Linked DNA regions of Homo sapiens: region 1 is linked to region 2. The links come from fine-mapping of genetic effects on gene expression. A gene starts in region 2. The other region holds a variant in brackets. All regions are shown on one strand. Distances are between the middles of the regions.

Region 1 (2,901 bases), 43 kb before region 2:
GAATGACCCAATGGCAGAAAGTTATTCCTTTCAAATACAATAATGCAATCTCCACTGTCCAAGGAATCTAATTAATCATTTTGTTTTCCAGAGCTGAAAATACTCCTACCTAGAATCTACTTTGTATGGCTGGCGCATTCTCTTCTGTGTCTTCCCCTTAGAGAAGTGTCCTCTAATCCTTTATGGACCGTCTCCATCCCCGTTAATCCCTATCATCGCCCACTGTTTTCACAATGGCATCTGTCATAGGTTATCATCATATGAAACAGGTAATATCTATCGAATGCTTACTGTGTGCCAAGCACTGTTCCAATTGCTTTCCAAGTCAAACTCGTTTAATCCTTACAAGAAGCCTATATGGTGGAATCTCTTGTCATCCTGTCTTTACGGCAAGGAAACACGCGCAAGCAGAATGAGGAACTGGCCTAAAGCCAGTTCAGGAACAGCTTTCACAGTGGCAGGGCTGGGATCAAACCCAGGAAGTGTGGTTCGAAACTATCCGCTCTTGTGTTTTTATTCATCGGCTTATTATCTGTCCCCCATTAAGCTCAACACTTCAGGAGGGTAGAGATCCATCTATTACTTTGCAACCTCTTTGGCTGATCTGGTGCCTGACTTGAAATAAGTGCTCCACAACTACTTGTTGAATTCATGAATTGCAAAGAGTTCGGTATAATGGGAGTAGAGAGAAAGGTGTAGGAGAAAACGCTGCGGGGAGAGGAAAGGATTGGCTCACAAGGGCCTGGAAGGTCAGGCTAGGCAAAGTGAATTTTATCCTGTTGGATGCGGGGAGCGGCTGGAACAAATTCCACCTCCACAACTGTGTTGATCTCCGCATCTCTGTTGATATGAACCTCACAACAGTCTATCTCCTCCTATAGGTGCCCAGTCAAGATTTACTGAATGACATAACGGATCCTGCAAGCCTGCAGGTTTCCAGAGGGAAGGGGACTTGTGCCTCCTTGCTTCGTACCTACCGCAGCCCACGGCTCACAGCAGGCGAGGGATGAATGAATGGATCGGTAAGGGGCGGACCCTCCCGCTTCCCCCAACCCGGCGACCTACGGAAAGGGGCTGAGGGGTTCCCCGTCTGGGAAAAGGGCTGCCAAAGACTCTAACGGCTCTAAAGTCAGACGGAGAACCCCGATCCCCGGACTGGCCCGGACGGAGACCACCGTGGGGATCCGGATCCGCCACCCTCCTCCCTCCAGGCGGGCCCCGGCCCCTCTCCACCCGAGTGCGGCTCCTGCCTCTCCGTCGGGGCTGCGGGCCTGCCGAGGCCACGGAGCCAGCGAGGGAGACGGGCGAGAAAGGCTCTTCTCCCTTAGGAAAGAGAGAACGGCCCGAAATGACAGGACCTCCGCCTCCCGGGTGCCGACTCCCAGCCCCACAGCCCGGCTCCTCCTACCTCCGGCGCCGCCGCGGCACCTTCTTAACGGAGACTCGCGCGCCTGCGCATGCGCCGCCCGCGCCCCCGCGGAGCATTGCCTGCGCGCAGGCGCAGAGCGGGCGCGCGCGGTGGTGCGGCAGCCTCGCTTCCGGTCTTCCTCTGCGGCGCCGGGCGCGGGCCCGCGGCGGCCAGCGCTTCCGGTCGGCAGGAGGCGGGGCGAGGCGGAAGCGGCGCTTGCTT[C/T]AGGTGGAGTCTGTTAGTTTTTGAGAAAGAGTTAGGGCGAGTTTAAGGCACTGTGGCAGCTGTGAGATAAAGTCTGGTTCCTCCCCAGCTGGCTCAGGAAATGTTCGCGGATACAACGGCGGCCCCCTCTGGGCATACCTGCCTGTGGAGCGGAGAGTGGACGGTGTGAGGGGGACCGGGAGAGGCACCAAATCTGGCCTGGGGGCCCGAGAAGCTTCCTCTCAGGTGGGGTGGCGTGAGAGTCGAGGCCTGGAGGTCGGGGAGGGTTAGCTACGTGAAGAGGGGATTCTGCCGCGCTTCAGGTGCCTGGAGGGGATGCCCGAGCTCTTCCGCAGGGCTAGGGTGAAGCCAGCCAGGGCCTGGGGGAAAGGTAGCAGAGGTTTGCCATGGCTTGGTATTTGAGGGACTTTACACATCGTATTAAGGGTTTGAGCTTCAACTTGGGGTCGTCGGGAGCCATTGAAGGTTTTTTGTTGTTTGTTTTTTGAGACGGGGTTTTGCTCTTGTTGCCCAGGCTGGGGTGCAGTGGCGCGATCTCGGCTCACTGCAACCTCTGTCTCCCGGGTTCGAGCGGTTCTTGTGCCTCACCTTCCCAAGTAGCTGGGATTACAGGCGCCAGTCACCACGCCCAGCTAATTTTTGTGTTTTTAGTAGAGACTAGGTTTCACTCTGTTGCCCAGGCTGGTCTCCAACTCCTGACCTCAGGTGATCCGCCCGCCTCGGCCTCCCAAAGTGGTGGGATTACAGGCGTGAGCCACCGCTCACGGCTTTTTTTTTTTTTTTTTTTAAGTAGAGACGGGCGGTGGGGGCGGGGGGGGGAGTCTCACTATGTTGCCCAGGCTGGTCTCGAGCCCTGGCCGCAAGAGATCCTCCCGCCTCGGCCTCCCAAAGCGCTGAGATTACAGGCGTGAGCCACCACGCCCGGCGTAAGATTTTGTTTTTAAAGGCCTAATTACAGTGAGAACAGATGAGGCAAGGACACCCATTAGGAGGCTATTACATAATCTAGATGAAAAGTGAGAGCGGCCCGAATTAGGAGGTGGAGCGAAAAGAATGGAGAAATATGGAGCATAGTCAAGACGCAGTTGTTAACGATTTGCCGGTTTCTGGCCTTAACATCTGAGAGTAGTGTGCCTCCAGTCACTGAAATAATGAACACAGGAGAGGTGTAAAGGAATCAGTTTGCAGGGCAGACAATATGTTTTTTAAAAGATACAGTATCATAAAATGCACACTAGAAGTGTACATTCAGTGGTTTCCAGTACGTTCAC
Region 2 (2,901 bases):
CCAAACTTGTGGTAGTTTCACCAGTCTCAGGAAATGAATACGAATGGAAAGTCAAAGATTCCAAGAAATGAGTGGCGGGGTGCGGTGGCTCACACTTGTAATCCCAGCATTTGCGGGAAGATTGCTTGGGCTCAGGACTTGGAGACCTTGTGTCTGTGAGAAACTTAAAAAATAGGCTGGGTGCGATGGCTCACGCCTGTAATCCCAGCACTTTGGGAGGCCGAGGCAGGCGGATCACAAGGTCACGAGTTTGAGACCAGTGTGACCAACATGGTGAAACCCTGTCTCTACTAAAAATACAAAAATTAGCCGGGTGTGGTGGTGCGTGCCTGTAATCCCAGCTACTCGGGAGGCTGAGGCAGAAGAATTGCTTGAACCCAGGAAGCAGAGGTTGCAGTGAGCCGAGATAGTATTACTGCACTCCAGGCTGGGCAGCAGAGCAAGATTCCGCCTCAAAAAAAAAAAAAAAAAAAAAAAAAAAAAAAAAAACTGAGCATGGTAGCATGCACCTGTGGTCCTGGCTACGCCGGAGGATTGCCTGAAGCCAGGAGTTCAAGACCAGTCTGGACAAAAGAGCAAGACCCCATCTCTACCAAAAAAATTTAAAAATTAGCCAGGCATGGTGCCGTACCCATAGTCTTAGCTACTCAGGAGGCTGAGGAGGGAGGATTATCTGAGCCCTGGCGGTTGAGGCTATAATGAGCCATGATTGTGCCACTGCACTCCAGCCTTGGCAACACAGTGTGAGACCCTGTCTCAAAAACAATAAAAACCCAAAACAAAAGAACCAAGAAATTACTGGACCTGAGGCCTGGCCTTTAGCTGCTGCCCTGCCCTTGTGACCTGGTCACTCGGGATCCCCTGGGCCTAAACACACAGCCTATTGTCTACCTCAAGAAGGCTCCCCACTGCTTGGCTGGCAATTGGGGTGGGCTTTGCAGGCCCCACCTGTCCTGGCCCCACGGCGCTGGTGCTGCAGGCCCCCACCACTGCTTGTTCCGAGCTCCCCAGCCTCCTGCAGAGTTGCCTGCACCTGATGGCGATGAATCAGGAAGGCAGGCGTGTCCTGGGCCACAGAGCAGTCATGGCTGTCAGCCACCAGGGGGCTCCATTTGCAACTTTGGATGTGGCTTTGGCCTCTTTGTCCAAAGTGACCTTGGGGCCCCCAGACAAGAGACAGGGAGACTGGAGCCCAGCCCCACCCTCCCGCACATACCTGGCCCATCCCTGCCCTATCCTGGAAGATGGGGGCCACCACACGTGCAAGGGACACGGGATAGGAACCTTTGGCCTTGTTATCAGACATTTTAAAACTAAGTGCAAACGTGATTATCAGGTGCAGTTTTTACAGCAGCAAGAAACCTGTGCTTACAGAAAGAAACACGTGCTAGCAACCCACCTATGCGGAAAGCCACACAGAGCCATTGTTTTCTGCACTCTCAGGTGACGGCTCACATTTGCCCCAGGGAAGGTCACAGCTGCCTGAACTTTTAAAACTCCCAGACACGCACTGCCTGTGCAGGATCCGGAGCCCAGCAGCACTGCCAGGGCCTTGAAGTGCTTCTTCAGAGACCTTTCTTCATAGACTACTTTTTTTTCTTTAAGCAGCAAAAGGAGAAAATTGTCATCAAAGGATATTCCAGATTCTTGACAGCATTCTCGTCATCTCTGAGGACATCACCATCATCTCAGGTGAGCACCAGGTGGAGTGCCTCTGGGTGACTGGCCGGTTTGGAGCAGGGAGGGAGGCTTAGAGTCTCATCCTCCAGCAGCGAGTGAGGCGGAGGCTCCAGCGTCCCTCCCGGGCGGGTTTTCTGGTGGATGGAGGAGTGACTCGGGGTCCTCTACGTGGTGCCAGCTGTTTGGCTTTCTGGACGTTGTAGGAAAGGGTTTCCCCCGCCTGCGTCCCCCTGACCTTGAGCTCCACCAGCCCCTGCCAGCTGGGCTCCAGAAGGCTGGAGTGCTGTGGCAGGGATGACGTCTCACTTCTGTTATGTCTCTGTGCCCTGTGCTCTCCCAGGATGAGGGGCATGAAGCTGCTGGGGGCGCTGCTGGCACTGGCGGCCCTACTGCAGGGGGCCGTGTCCCTGAAGATCGCAGCCTTCAACATCCAGACATTTGGGGAGACCAAGATGTCCAATGCCACCCTCGTCAGCTACATTGTGCAGGTGAGGCCAGGGCAGCCTCCCCCCAAAAGCAGAGGAGCTCTGGAGTCTAGGGCTGGTGGGCAGGGCCAGCCCTATGGAGCCACAGGGTGTCGGGTGTGGGGTACTGAGCACCACTGCTCCCAGCACGGTGGAACAGGCTCTTGGCTGTGGACCAAGGTCCTCATCCCTGCTGTGCTGTCCCTGGCTGGCAGCAGGAGCCCAGGCAGAAACATGAGGCTGCGGTTAAACCGAGCAATGCCACGAGCATCAGCTGTGGCTCCCTTTGTGGCGCTGTAGGGTCCCTGGGTGGCACCAGCCCTGCTCAGCACCACTGTGGCCCTGCCCCCAGATCCTGAGCCGCTATGACATCGCCCTGGTCCAGGAGGTCAGAGACAGCCACCTGACTGCCGTGGGGAAGCTGCTGGACAACCTCAATCAGTGGGTGACAGTGGCAGGGTCATAGGAAGGTGACATCTCGTCCACGGCACAGCCTCACTTCACTTGGGCCCCAAGGGTGGGGACCTGGGCACAGCCTCGCTATCGGCAGCCAGAGGGGTCCCCTATGGCCCCCGCCACTGGGACCTTTTGTTTCTTCAATCCAGGGATGCACCAGACACCTATCACTACGTGGTCAGTGAGCCACTGGGACGGAACAGCTATAAGGAGCGCTACCTGTTCGTGTACAGGTGGGTGGTCTAGAAAGCCAGGAAGCCCCTCCCTCACCTGGGAGGGCCCCAACAGAGCAGGGAAGTAG

The links. PIP is the estimated chance that this variant, and not a neighbour inherited with it, causes the effect.
Region 1: its variant is fine-mapped to the expression of DNASE1 in whole blood (TOPMed, PIP 0.91).

Annotation. Positions count from the first base shown.
Region 1 is chr16:3,610,152-3,613,052 of GRCh38, forward strand. It overlaps SLX4 (SLX4 structure-specific endonuclease subunit), which reads right to left and starts at 1,455. Exons shown (of 15, transcript NM_032444.4): 1 at 1,409-1,455. It also overlaps a transcript of DNASE1 not described here. RefSeq lists a silencer at 1,313-1,662 and an enhancer at 1,703-1,772. The variant C/T (reference allele first, on the strand shown) is at 1,631.
Region 2 is chr16:3,653,353-3,656,253 of GRCh38, forward strand. DNASE1 (deoxyribonuclease 1) reads left to right here and starts at 1,339. Exons shown (of 9, transcript NM_005223.4): 1 at 1,339-1,692; 2 at 2,021-2,168; 3 at 2,497-2,585; 4 at 2,750-2,833. The coding sequence starts at 2,022. LOC124903631 (a long non-coding RNA gene) reads right to left here. Exons shown (of 2, transcript XR_007064954.1): 2 at 1-2,901. RefSeq lists enhancers at 1,516-2,043, 2,044-2,571.